2 separate regions of the Homo sapiens genome follow, and region 2 is linked to region 1. Evidence: fine-mapped expression QTL. Tissue or cell type: whole blood. Region 1 holds a variant in brackets; the other region holds the start of a gene. All regions are shown on one strand. Distances are between the middles of the regions.

The links. PIP is the estimated chance that this variant, and not a neighbour inherited with it, causes the effect.
Region 2: ARF4 starts here. The variant in region 1 is fine-mapped to the expression of ARF4 in whole blood (INTERVAL, PIP 0.96).

The regions. Positions count from the first base shown.
Region 1 is chr3:57,733,909-57,742,263 of GRCh38, forward strand. No RefSeq gene overlaps it. Among named protein-coding and RNA genes, the nearest start is that of SLMAP, 18 kb to the right of the region's middle. The variant G/C (reference allele first, on the strand shown) is at 4,706.
Region 2 is chr3:57,594,712-57,601,171 of GRCh38, forward strand. It overlaps ARF4 (ARF GTPase 4), which reads right to left and starts at 2,633. Exons shown (of 6, transcript NM_001660.4): 1 at 2,363-2,633. The coding sequence starts at 2,429. It overlaps ARF4-AS1 (ARF4 antisense RNA 1), which reads left to right and starts at 3,078. Exons shown (of 2, transcript NR_132370.1): 1 at 3,078-3,340; 2 at 6,032-6,205. It also overlaps a transcript of PDE12 not described here. RefSeq lists enhancers at 2,037-2,086, 2,107-2,256, 2,170-3,369, 2,245-2,950, 2,287-2,336 and 4 more.

The sequences.
Region 1 (8,355 bases):
CATGGGCATGGCATATAAGGTCCTTTGTTAGCTGACTCCTGTCTGATCTTCTAATCTCTACTTCATTCTTTAAACACACTGCATCCGAGTCATGCTGAACTAATTGCTGTTTTTCAAATAGGCCATGCCCTCTTACTGTGGTCAAGCTGTTCCTTCAGCCTGAAATGACTTCCTTTTCTCCACCCTAATTCCATACCTGCAAGCCTCTAGTCATCCCTGAAGACTCAACTCATGTCCTCTTTTTTTACTGAAGACCTTCCTGGCCTCTTTAGGCAGTATTTTGTTTTTGTTTTTGTTTTTTTTTTGATGTTGCCCAGGTTGGAGTGCAATGGCACGATCTCGGCTCACTGACACCTCCGCCTCCTAGGTTCAAGCGATTCTCCTGCCTCAGCCTTCCGAGTAGCCGGGATTACAAGCGTGCGCCACCATGCCCAGCTAATTTTTGTATTTTTAGTAGAGACGGGGTTTCACCACGTTGGCCAGGCTGGTCTCAAACTCCTGACCTCAGGTGATCCGCCCACCTCGGCCTCCCAAAGGCAGTTTTATATAGACATTTATTCTGTAGAATCTATAGTATAGTGTTTTAATTATCTATTGCTGCATAACACATTAACCCCAAACTTAGTGGCTTAACTTAAATATAAACATTTATTATCTGTCACAGTTTCTACAGGTCAGGAATTTGGGAGCCACTTGACTGGGCAGTTCTAGTTAGGGGTTTTTCGTGGGGTTCAGTCAGACGTTAACCAAGTCTGCAGTCATTTGAAGACTTGAATGGGGCTGGAAGATCCACTTCCAATGGCTTACTCACACAGCTGGTAAGTCTGTGCACAATACTGGTGGAAGCCGCAGTTCGTCCCCTAGTGGGCCCCTCTACAAAGTTGTTGGAGAGTCCTCATGAGATGATTGCTGGCCTCCCCCAGAGTAAGCTATCCAAGAGACTAAAGTGGGAGTAGCAAGTCCTTTACAGTCTACCCTTGGAAGTCACCCCCTGTAACCTCAGCCATGCTCTTGTTCACATAGACTAGCCCTAATTCATTGTGGAAGAAGACAACATAAGGACATTAATACTAGAAAGTGAGAATCATTGAGAGTCATCTTAGAGACTGGCTCTCATATACAGTGACTCAATTATACATCATATCTCACTAGCCAGTGACTACAAAATAAGATTAGACCTATTTTTTTTTTTTTTTTTTTTTGAGACAGAGTCTCACTCTGTCACCCAGGCTGGAGTACAGTGGCACGAACATGGCTCACTGCAGGCTCAGCTTTCTGGGCACAAGTGATCCTCCCACCTCATCCTCCTGAGTAGCTGGGACTACAGGCATGCACCACCAGGCCTGGCTAATTTTTTTATTTTTCATAGACATGAGGTGGTCTCAAACTCCTGGGCTCAAGTGATCCACCTGCCTCTGCCTCCCAAAGTGCTGGGGTAACAGGTGTGAGCCACTGCTCCCAGCCTTAATTTTTTAAAAATTTTAGTTGACAAATAATAATTATAAATATTTGTGAGGTACGATGTGATGTATGCATTATCAAATGATTAAATCAAGCTAATTAACACATCTATCACCTCACATTTTCATCATTTTTTGTGGTGTGAACATTTAAAATTTACTCTCAGCAATTTTGAAATATACATTACATTACTATTAATTATAGTCACCATGTTGTGCAATAGATCCTAAAAACTTATTCCTCCTGTCTAGCCAAAACGTTCTACCCTTTGACCAACATCTCCCTTTTCCCTCTCCCTGCAACCAACCCTCAGTTAACCACCATGCTATTGTCTGTCTCCTACTGTGAGTTAACCACCATCCTACTGTCTGTCTGCTACTGTGAGTTAACCACCATTCTACTGTCTACTGCTATGTGATTCCACATAAAAGTCAGATCGTGCAGTACTTGCCTTTCTGTGCCTGGCTTATTTCACTTAAAATAATGTCCTCTAGGTTCATCCATGTTGTGGCAAATGGCAGTATTTCTTTTTAAAGGCCATTGTGTATACATAGCACATTTTCTTTATCCATTCATCCATTGATGGACAAGATTGATTCTCTATCTTTGTTATTGTGAATAATGCTGAATAATTCAGTACAATTATTGTGAATAATGTGAGTAATGAGGATGGGAGTGCAGATATCTCTTTCACAAACTGGTTTCAATTCCTTTGGATATATCTCCAGAAGTAGGATTGCTTGATCATATGGTAGTTATATTTTTAGTTCTTCAAGGAAACTTCTTACTCTTTTCCATAATGGCTACACTAATTTGCATTCCCACTAACAGTATACAAGGGTACCCTTTTCTCCACATCATCTCTAACACTTGTAACCTTTCATCTTTTTGTTGACAGCCATTCTAACAGGTGGGAGACGATATCTCCTTGTGGTTTTAATTGGCATTCTTCTGATGATTAGTGATGCTGAACATTTTTTCATGTACCTATTGACCATTTGTATGTCTTCTTCTGAGAAATATCTATTTAGGTCCTTTGACATTTTTTAATTAGGTTGTTTTCTTGCTATTAAGTTGTTTGAGTTCCTTATATATTTTGGATATTAAAATCCTACTTTTTTTTTTTTTTTTTTTTGAGACGGAGTTTCGCCCTTGTTGCCCAGGCTGGAGTGCAATGGCGTGATCTCGGCTCACTGCAACCTCCGCCTCCCGGGTTCAAGCAATTCTCCTGTCTCAGCCTCCTGAGTAGCTGGGATTACAGGCATGTGCCATCACGCCTGGCTAATTTTGTATTTTTAGTAGAGACGAGGTTTCTCCATGTTAGTCTGGCTGGTCTCGAACTCCCGACCTTAGGTGATCCAGCCACCTTGGCCTCCCAAAGTGCTGGGATTACAGGTGTGAGCCACCACTCCCAGTCTAAACTCATACTTTTAATGTTCAAATTATGATGACTTAAGCCCTCATGGCACATTTCCTAGAGAAAACAATCTCTTCCTCCTCCCGTATTTCTGATACACCTCTCCTGTTTTCAGGAACAGTTCTTGTTCTATCACAACCTTCTGGATCTGCCGGAGTGCTGCTCTCTCATCCTAATCAGAATGTAGCTCCAGTGAGCACCGTTCTCCTGCACTGATGACTGTCACCATTGCTTCCACCACTGAATTTGGGAAGTATTTGATATTCTTCCAAGAAAGTGAAATAAGCCCAAGAACACAACCGAGGCCAAGCTGTGATTGTTAACAGGTTTTGACTTTTGTTTACAGAAAGTGTAATAGACAGGGTAACCTATACTGCTGTTAGCAGTGGCTGCTATGAAAGGTCCACAGTCTAAACTCACTATCAGAATGGCAGAAACGCAGGACTTCTGGAAACTCTACCATCATCAGAGGCTGTCCTCTTGTCCTATGCCCTACAAAAGACATAATACAACACAGTCTGTCATCAGTCCAATTCCTGAGGTCTGGGATTTTCAGTCTTTAACACCACAGGTGGAACTCAACAATCCATGTCATAAAGTGCTGGGCCAAGTGCCCTCCATTTCTTGTTTACAGTTTCTCCTCCAGCATTGGCTGAAGAAAACAAGCCTGCACACTCTCTCAGCATTCCTCTCCATCCCACTTCCATGACCCTCATAAATAAGTGTCTAAAGAACAGGCCTCTCAGCTCTGTAAAGATATCCAGTAATGAGCCAGGCACAGTGGCTCATGCCTGTAATCCCAGCACTTTGGGAGGCCGAGGCAGGAGGATCACCTGAGGTCAGGAGTTCAAGACCACCCTGGCCAACATGGTGAAACTCCATCTCTAATAAAAACAAAAATTATCCGGATGTGGTGGTGTGTGCATGTAATCCCAGCTACTTGGGAGCCTGAGGCAGGAGAATTGCTTGAACCCAGGAGGTTGCAGTGAGCCGAGATTGCATCACTGCACTCCAGCCTGGGTGACAGAGTGAGACTCTGTTTCAAAAAAAAAAAAAAAAGATATCCAGTAGTGCACAAGCATAGGACAATCTAGATCCATACTTACGGAGAAACATTTCTTTATAGAAATCAATATATAGAGGCAGACAACTACTAAAAGATACCTTATTAGCAGCCTGAAGCATCTTCATTTGTTTGTTTTGAGATGGAGTCTTGCTCTGTCGTCCAGGCTGGAATGCAGTGGCGCAATCTTGGCTCATTGCAACCTCCACCTCCCAGGTTCAAGTGATCCTCTTGCCTCAGTCTCCCAGAGATCTGGGACTACAGGCATGCACAACTATGCCCGGCCAATTTTGCGGAGGCCGGGGGGCGGGTATTTTTATTAGAGATGGGGTTTTGCCATGTTGGCCAGGCAGGTCTCAAGCTCCTGGCCTCAGCTGATCCACCTGCCTCAGCCTTCCAAAGTGCTGGGATTACAGGCCTGAGCCACCATGTCCGGCCTTCATTTGTTTTACCTCAGTTATTTCAGGCCTTCACCTACAACTGGACGTTGGTGATGGCTTTGCAATGACAAAACCCAAGAGGCAGCTTCAGGGTATCTCCCAGGACAAGGGAGGAATCGGTACTAAAAGGAAATTATAGCCTTTGCTTTTAAATGTAGTGTTTCCAGCTGGTTCACTCATCAAGGTTAAAAAATAAAATCCTGGCTTCAGCCAGCTTGTTTATAATATCACTTGCCGTGATTGCTTGTTGGAAAGCATGTCTCAGTTTCATTAGAGAGCCTGGAGGTCAGATAGCAAAAATAGAAGCTGGAAGAGATATTAAAG[G/C]AATAAGTTGTGCCTAGGGATAGAAAATAACATCAAGCAGATTGTTTGTCACGCGGTAACAGTGGGCTGTAGTGAAATGATGAGAGGTTTTGGAGCCAAACAGATGTAGGTCCACACGATGATGGGACTCTTCCTGCAAAGTGGGATGACTGGGACTTCACTTCTCTGAGCCTTAGTTTCTTCACATGTAAAATGATGGTAACAATTTTACTTCACAGAGTTGAGGATTAAATGAGAAAATACATAATCAAGCACTGGCAGAAGGCAGGCTATGCTTCAGGTATAGCACTTGGTGCTGGGAATAAAGGAGTGAAGGGATGAAAATGAGTCACTGTCTTCACTGAGATTTCAATCTAGAAGGGAAGGCAGGAATTAAAGAACTACCTAACTTCAATTGTGATGAATGCTATCACGAAGCCTAGGGTACCATAAAAAGAGACCTGACCTCATTTAGGGTGTCAAGGAATGTGGCTTTGAGGAAGTGATGCAAAAGCTGGGGAGTCTGGGTTAGGGGAGAGCATGTCATCTTTCAGTTGAGGCATTCTAGGCTCATGGAAGGTGCTCAATAAATGGGAGCTGCTATTATTACTATTTATTCAGTAAACATTTATTGAGTGCCTACTAAGTATACTGTGCTACCATGCATACTGAGGGTATAATAAATGTGTGAAGTTGAAAAGTAGCTTAACTTCTTTGAGCCTCAATATGTTCAGCTGGAAAATGGGAATATTAATATTACCTACCCCTTTAGTCTTTCTTTGAAGATTCAATGAGATTATGAATGCAAAATGTTTAACATAGTGCCTGGCATAGGGAGAACATAATATATATTAGTAATATTTTTATTCACTAATCAAGACTGGCTACATAATTTACAGGGCCCAGAGCAAAATAAAAATGCAGGGCTTCTTGTTAAAAGATTATTAAGAATTTCAAGCCAGGCATGGTGGCTCATGCCTGTAATCCCAGCACCTTGGGAGGCTGAGGCAGACGAATCACAGGGTCAGGAGTTTGAGACCCTGGCCAACATGGCAAAACCCCGTGTTTACTAAAAATACAAAAATTAGCCAGGCGTGGTGGTGGGCCCCCATAGTCCCAGCTACTCAGGAGGCTGAGAAAGGAGAATCGCTTGAACCTGGGAGGTGGAGGTTGCAGTGAGCCGAGATCGGGCCACTGCACTATATCCTGGGCGACAGAGTGAGACTCTGTCTCCAAAAAAAAAAAAAAACTTTGGCTGGGCACGGTGGCTCACACCCGTAATCCCAGCACTTTGGGAGGCTGAGGCGGGTGGATCACCTGAGGTTGGGAGTTCAAGACCAGCCTGACCAACGTGGAGAAACCCCATCTCTACTAAAAATACAAAATCAGTCGGGCGTGGTGGCGCATGCCTGTAATCCCAGCTGCTCAGGAGGCTGAGGCAGGAGAATCGCTTGAATCCGGGAGGTGGAGGTTGCAGTGAGCCGAGATCGTGCCATTGCACTCTAGCCTGGGCAACAGGAGCAAAACTCCATCTCAAAAAAAAAAAAAAAAAAATCAAAACAGTAAAGTATTAAACCAAGGGAGGGCCCTGTGTAACTGCACAGTTCGCATGCTTACAAAGACAGCCCTTTCACTAGTTATGTTATATGTACATATGTGCTTTTGCATAGCTTACCTATGTAAACAGGCTGAATCTTTCTTGGGAGCAACTTTCAAAATTCAGTATGTGGAATTTAGTGTATAAGGATAAAATATGTATACATGCAGTATATCAATAGATGATTGAGACATATTTTTCTCAACATGTTGTTATGAAAATTTTAAAACAAAAATTATAAGAATTTCTTAGCGAGCACATGTATACAAACCACCTAGATTCTATTATTAACATTTTATTATATTTGCTTTATTTTATATGTATATACATATGTATTTTTCAAGAGATGGGGTCTCGCTCTGTTGCCCAGGCTGGTCTTGAACTCCTGGGCTCAAGCAGTCCACCTGCCTCAGCCTCCCAAAGCGCTGGGGTTATAGGCATGAGCCTCCACACCTGCCTCCCTTATTATATATCTATCCATTTATTAATCAATCTGTCTTATTTTTGGTGCATTTCAAAGTAAATTCCAGATATCAATATCACTAACTAAAGCCAAATTTGTTTGATTCTTTCTCCTTTTGATGTAAATTGATATACAGAAGAATGCACAAATCTTAACAGTAACTATTTGCTGGCTGGGCAAGGTGTCTCACGCCTGTTATCCCAGCATTCTGGGAGGCCAAGGTGGGTGGATCACTTGAGGCCAGGAACCTGAGACCAGCCTGGCTAACATAGTGAAACTAGTGAAACCCTGTCTCTACTGAAAATATAAAAATTAGCCGGTCATGGTGGCACATGCCTGTACTCCCTGCTACTCAGGAGGCGGGAGAATTGTTTGAACCCAGGAGGCGAAGTTTGCAGTGAGCTGAGATCACGCCACTGCACTCCAGCCTGGGCAACAGAGTGAGTACCCTGTCTCAAAAACAAAACAAAACGAAACAAAACAAAACAAAAAAATACAAGAGTAAATTTGGTAAATTTGCTGAGTTTTGACAAATGCATTGTCCTCTATAACCCAAACCTCTATAAAGATACAGAACATTACCATCATCCTAAAAAGTTCCTTCATACTCCTTCCCTGTTAGTCACCACTCCTACCCTTTCCAGAGACAACTACTGTTCTGATTTTTTTTTTTTCTGGTGCTTAAATTTTTCAAAAGGAGCCTTGATAAGTATAAGTACTTAGCTTCAGTGCTTTCTCCTATTATGCACAGAAAATCTTGCAGTCTTTAAAACAGGAGAGGTAATTCTAGGATAGTTGGTGCAATCAACAACAAATATTTGTTGAGACAAAGAGTAACTAAATAAATCACTTGAATGCTTTTTTCAATAGTTTTTGGGTAAAAGTGATACAATGAACACTCCAGAAAAAGTGTAAATAATTGAAAAAATATAGAGAGAGGAAATTAAAAATCACCTCACATGAAGAGATGAACACTTAAAATATTTTGGGCTGGGCATGGTGGCTGATGCCTGTAATCCCAACACTTTGGGAGGCTGAAGTGGGAGGAGGATAGCTTGAGGCCAGGAGTTTGAAATCAGCCTGGGTAACATAGACCCTATTTCTACAAAAGAAAAATTTAAAAATTAGCCAGACTTAGTGGCATGCTCCTATAGTCCCAGCTACTGGGGAGGCTGAGGCAGGAGGCTCACTTGAGCCCAGGAGTTCGAGGCTGCTGGTAGCCGTGATTGCTCTATTGTGCTCCAGCCTGGGCAACAGAGTGAGACCCTGTCTCAAAAATACATATATAAATAAAATAGTGGGTGCGGTGGCTCACGCCTGTCATCCCAACACTTTTGGAGGCCTAGTCGGGTGGATCACTTGAGGTCAGGAGTTCAAGATCAGCCAGGCCAACATGGTGAAACCCTGTCTCTACTAAAAATACAAAAATAAAATAAATAAATGAATAAAAATATTTTGATGAAATTTCTCCCTGATGCCTATGTGTACATATATATAGTGATCTCTGTATAAAACCTGATATAAATGGGATCATACACATGCTACTATGTAACCTGTTTTTGTCACTTAACAATATCCCATAGATATTTTTCCTCATCATAAATATAAGGT
Region 2 (6,460 bases), 140 kb before region 1:
CATGAATCTTATCTAAGCTTTATAAAGAAAAACGAAGCACACTAATGTAAAACATTAATAATTCCAACAGTTGAATGGGGCAGACACTTTAAAAGTGATCTATTATTTTTGCTGTCAGTCACTCATAAAGCCAGACAGAAAAATGTAAGAATTATCAAACTTCCAAACCACCTTTTTCCCTGTTCATGCACATATCTCCCTCGTACGTTGATACTTCCTTTGATGAGTTACCATAAATGTCGATCTTGTGACTGAAGTGTTTTTTAGTCAAGGAAAACTGATTATCCCAAAATTAAAGTGCAAAACGATAGCATGCCTGAGTAATAAAACATTAAAAACAAGTAACTCCTAAATCCTCCACACAAATGCAGAAACTTAAATATTTTTTCTCTCCCATTTTCTTCGAATCATTTTTTGGGGTGGAGGGAAATGCCTCCCAATATAGTAAATATATGAAAATGCTGGTAGCATACTTCTATATTCCTTGCCCCTCTGATACTTTCATCAATCACAAAAGACTAAGGAATTGAAAAATAGCAATTCATTTACAATAAATCTTAAGTAAAAAGACCAATATACTATGTGTTCTGGAACATAACCATATATTGTTAAATCTCTTTAACGAACAGACTGGAAATTCATTTATCACAGTCCGAAGTCCTCCCATTAACTTCCGATCCTTTTTCAGACTGCCAACTTTCAGCCACTGAAAACTTAAATATGCTTGCCCTCCTAAAATAATTCTGTCCTCTTGACAAAGGAAATCTAAGAAACTTTGAAAGAAAAAATACTTTATGAATGACTCATAAACAATTGATTCACAAAGTGTAAGTACGCTAAGAGGAAAATAAACATGAGCCAATGTATATACTGTTACTCTTTATATACCTTGAAATATTACAGAAGCTTGTGTTTGCAAGTTTTGATGGTAGTACAGCTCTAAAATAAAACCTCCGGCCGGGCGCGGTGGCTCACGCCTGTAATCCCAGCACTCTGGGAAGCCTGGGTGGGTGGATCACCTGAGGTGAGGAGTTCGAGACCAGACTGGCCAACGTGGTGAAACCCCCGTCTCTACTAATAATACAAAAAATTAGCCAGGCGTGGTGTTGCATGCCTGTAATCCCAGCTACTCGGGAGGCTGAGGCAGGAGAATCTCTTGAACCCGGGAGGTGGAGGTTGCAGTGAGCCGAGATTGCGCCACTGCACTCCAGCCTGGGTGACAAGAGCAAAACTCCGTCTGCAAAAAAAAAAAAGGAAGAGAAAAATAAAACCTCCTCCGGTAGAAAACAAGCTAATGAACCAACAAGTTTCAACGTTCAAAGTTAGAGGGGCTTCTTTCAGCGTTATTCTAGTCCATGGAGCTCAGCTGTGATGTAGACTGCTTACAGTAACCGGGAGCGGTTGCTTACTTCAGCCAACTGACAGCCCTTCTCCCTCAGCTGAGCAAAAACACGCCCCCTAAAAAGTAGTTTTTAAAAAGTCAACTTTCTAAAAAGAAATTTTAAAAAAATTGTAGTTACTATTTAACAAGACTACCATAAAATTCAGCGTCATGATGTTCAGTTACTTGAAAATTTATCAGGTATTTTTTAAAAATTCGTTTCTAAAATTTTTTTGCATTAGACCTTAGACCGCCTAAAAATAAGCTTAAAAACCTAGGAGAATAAACCAAACACATTTAAAGTTTTTGAAAATAGTCAAAGAAATAGAAGATAAGCTCAGTTTTCGGAGAATGAGATTAACAAGGAGCGAAAAACTTGAAACGGAATCCAGCGCAAGGCCAAGTTTAGCAAAGTGAGCGCTGAAGGACTCCAGACTCTTCGGAAACCTTGGGTGCTCCCTGGCCACCGCAACTTCCTGCCCCGGGCGGCTCCAGGCTCCGGGTGGCCGCTGGCTTACATACCAATGGAGTATGCAGGGACTGTACACGAAACGCAGAAGGGGAGGGAAAAGGCTGGAGTTGCTCTGCCTCCCTCCTGACCGCTGTCCACACCCGGGCAAGAAGGTATGCAGATCGCACCCCCAGAAAGGGCCTCGCCAAGTGTTTGCTTCCCAGAGTTGGCTTTCCCCACATCTCTGCCCAATGTTGTCCAGCTTTCAATAAGATCAAGGAGAAAAAGCCGAGTCCAGAAAGAAATCTTGCCCGAAGCCCTGTCCCTGTCTCGTCTGGCGACAGATCGGGGGCGGGGGGGATCGCTCACCCTCCGCTCCATTGTTCCCCCTTAAGAATTCCTTCCGACCCCCGACCCGGCGCCCCTCCCCCACCACAGCGGGCGGAGGAAAAAAACAGGCCCAGAGGCCACCCCAATTGTGGAGACCCTGCCTTTCCCAGGTCCCGCCTGACTCGCAGCCCCTCACTCACCCATCAAAATGCGCATCTGCTTCTTGCCAAATAGTCGGGAGAAGAGGGAGGAGATAGTGAGGCCCATGGCGGTAGTGGCACTTGTGATGGGCAGAAGCAGAAGGGGTTTGGGGCGACCCCGTGCTTTCTCCTTTCAAGCTCCCAGGCAAACTAAACGAGAGGGAAGAGAAAGAGCGGAGGAAGAAAGAGGGAGGCAGAAACGTCTCAGTGGCCCCTGTGCCGATGAAGATCCGGCACAGGAATAAGCCGGTAGAGGACCTGCTAGGCGACTGGCGCGGCAGCTCCGGCTCTAGCCTTTAGGCTCTGGCTGTGCCACGTCACGCGGCGGCCGCGGCGACTCCAGCAGCGGCCCGGCCCCTCCAACGCGGACAGAATCGCGTCACCGCCGCCCCATCCCCCTGCGCTTCCGGTGCGCCCGAGCCACTGCGCTTGCGCCTGCAGGGGATTGGCCAGTTTCGCTGACGAGCATCTCTCGACGGCGCCACCGCCCGGACGTGGCCCCAGGAGCCGGGAGAGGCCGGCTGAGGCACATGCGTACTGGGAGACGGACAAAGTCCCACAATACCTCGCTTCGTCACTGCCAAATCAGACTCAGGGTGAGACGCTTCCGCCCGGATGAAGGTATTGTCGGGGTGATAGTCCTTGCTTCCGGAAAGGCGAGCTGAGCATTATGGGTTAGGTGAGGAACCTCGCCCTCTTCTATTACGGTACGCGCGATGGGTATTCCCTGATGCCATGAACTTACACGTTTCACACACGGGACCAGACGCTTGCTTTAGTTGACGCATGAAGACCGGTCCGGTCTTTTGCGGAGAAAAGTGGTTAAAAGCTGACTTGTGGGCCGAGAAACTGTGGCACCCTAATGAGCTAGGGCTAGACGCTTCGACCACCACGCCAAGTGATTCTGAAGATCTCTAATTCTGTCAAGGCGAGAGCGCTCCAACACGTGTTCATCGGCTGTTGCTTTTTAAAGAGAAGGCAAGGAGGAAGTCTTGCTTTTCTTGTACTTTTTTTCCTAGAAGCAGCATTAAAGATTTACTCCTTATGTTGAGGAAGCGGAAAGCCTCTTCACTTTAAAAGTGTTTATGATCGGGCCTGGCGCGGTGACTCACCGCGCCCGGCCTGCTACACCTTTTAAAATTCACAGCAATGATAAATGTATTAGACTCATTGCCAGGATAAAGATTTAATCTATTTTTCTAGTAGTGCCGTCCTATGTGGTTCTGTAGTTGCTTATTCCAACTGGTATATTTCCATAGGATGGGGTTGAATAAGAAAAACTTGCAAACTTTCAGAAACAGTAAGTTATTTTTATATTTTTGAAGGCTTGCTGAGTAACGCTTCTCTTGGTAGCACTACCTTATCTACCCTTCAGAGACTGTTATTTCTTAGGAGTGGCCCTGGGCAATTAAAAGCAAAAACTTCTGGCCGGGCATAGTGGCTCATGCCTGTAATCCCAGCACTTTGGGAGGCCGAGGCGGGCAGATTACGAGGTCAGGAGATCGAGACCATCCTGGCTAACACGGTGAAACCCAGTCTCTACTAAAAATAGAATAAATTAACCGGGCGTGGTGGCGGGTGCCTATACTCCCAGCTACTCCGGAGGCTGAGGCAGAAGAATGGCGTGAACCCGGGAGGCGGAGGTTGCAGTGAGCGGAGATCGCGCCCCTGCACTCCAGCCTGGGCGACAGAGCGAGACTGTCTTAAAAAAACAAACAACAACAACAAAAAAACCCCAAAAACTTCTTTACTCAGAAGTACCCTCCTTTGCATTGGAGATACATGTAAAGAGTTGCTTAGCAGTTGAATAACTCAAAATTGCATTTTGGAAGCTTGCTAAGTGACAAGACCTTCTTGTATCCTTTTGTGAACCCCCAAAATATGAGACAGGCCTCAGTTAATTTAGAAAGTTAATTTTGCCAAAGTTGAGGACACGCGTCCATGACATAGCCTCAGGAGGTCTTGTAGACATGTGCCCAAGGTGATCAGAGCACGGTTTGGTTTTATACATTCTAGGGAGAAATGAGACATCAATCAATATATGTAAGATGAACATTGGTTCATTCTGGAAAGACTGGACAACTCAAAGCAAAGGCAGGAAGACTCTGAGTGGGGAGGGAGCTTCCAGGGCATAGATAGATAAGAGACAAATGGTTGCATTCCTTTGAGTTTCTGATTAGCCTCTCCAAAGGAGGCAGTCAGATATGCGTTTATCTCAGTGAGCAGAGGGGTGACTTTTTAAAGAATGGGAGGCAGGTTGGCCCTAAGCAGTTCCCAGCTTGACTTTTCTCTTTAGCTTAGTGAGGTGGAGGCCCCAAGATTTATTTTCCTTTCACACTTTAGGCCTTATGTCTGTTTTTAGTTTTATATAGTAGAATTCCTTAAAACAATCTTCAACTAATTCTTAGGGTCTTCTTAAATTCAAAAGACAAACCGTATGAGCCCTCCTCCCTGTAACTTATTCCAAATCTTAATCCATGTTTTCTGTTTAGTTATGCAAAATAAATCGAAAGAATTCTGTTCTCCATCTCTAGCCTCCAAAACCTGAACCAAAACAAAAGTTGTCAAAACAGATTTTTCAGTAAGAATACACTACACATCAAGTGGCTAATGTAAATTACAAAACAGGATGTTAATGGCAGACTGTAATATCTCTATTGTACAGATAAAAATAATCAGGGTCAGAGAGATTAAATATTCTGCCCAAGGTCACACAGCTAAAAGCAGTGGAACAGCTATAAGAACCCATTTCTTCTGGTATTAACTGGTATTTACACTCTTTTTTTTTTTTTTTTTTTAATAAATAAGTGGATTCTGGCTATGTTGCCCAGGCCTGTCTGGAACTCCTGGGCCCAAGCAATCCTTCCACCTCAGCCTCCAAAGTGTTGGGATTACAGGTGTGAGCCAGTGCACCCAGCCATTAACACTCTTAACCACTACACTATACTACCTTCTTACATTTATTTATTTATTTATTTGAGACAGGGTCTCACTTTGTCACCCAAGCTGAAGTACAGTGGCATCATCTCGGCTTACTCAACCTCCTGGGATCAAGTGATCCTCCCACCTCAGCCCCCAAAGTAGCTGGGACTACAGGTACACCACCACATTGGCTAAGTAGTGTTATTTTTTGTAGAGACAGGGTTTTGCTATGTTGCCAAGGCTGGTCTCAAACTCCTGAGCTCAACCAATCTGTCTGCCTTGGCCTCCCAAAGTACTGGGATTATGGGCCTGAGCCACTGTTCCCGGCCAAATTCTTTTCTTTTCTCTTTTCTTTTTCTTTCTTTCCTTTCTTTTCTTTCTTTCTCTTTCTTTTCTTTCCTTCATCCTTCCCTCCCCTTCCTTTCCTTTCCCTTTTCCCCTCCCTTCCCCCTTCTGTTCCCTTTTCCCTTCCCTTTTCCCTCCTCTCCCTTCCCCTCCCCTCCCTTTTTCCTCCTGCCTCAGCCTCCCAAGTAGCTGGGACCACAGACATATTCCACCATGCCCAGCTATTTTATGTATTTTTGGTAGAGTTGGCGTTTTGTAGAGACCAGCATGTTGCCCAAGCTGGTATCCAGCTGCTGAGCTCAGGCGATCTACTCGCCTTGGCCTCCCAAAGTGTTGGTAGTAGAGGTGTGAGCCACCGTGCCCAGACCCCAAATTTATTTTTATTTTATTTTATTTTTCTAGGTCAGGCATGGTGGCTCACACCTGTAATCCCAGCATGTTGGGAGGCCAAGATGGGAGACTCACTTGAGCCCAGAAGTTCCAGACCAGCCTTGGCAATATAGTGAGATGCCATTTCTATTTTAAAAAATATTTTAAAAATAAAATATTTTTCTATTCACCTTTCATCAATACAAACCCAGAAGAGAATCTTTCTTATTTTTAAAAATGAGGAAATTGAGCCCTACAAGAAAAATTGCTATAGTTTATTGATCACTTGCTAAGCCATGTACTTCATTTAATCATCGCTTTTGAACACAGTGTTGTATAAAGTTGCCCAGGCTCAAAAGCATGTACTCATAACATACTACACTAGGTAGTATGTTTTCCTCATCTCTGGTTATTTTATTTTATTTTTTTTTGCTCTGTCACCTAGGCTGGAGTGCAGTGGGG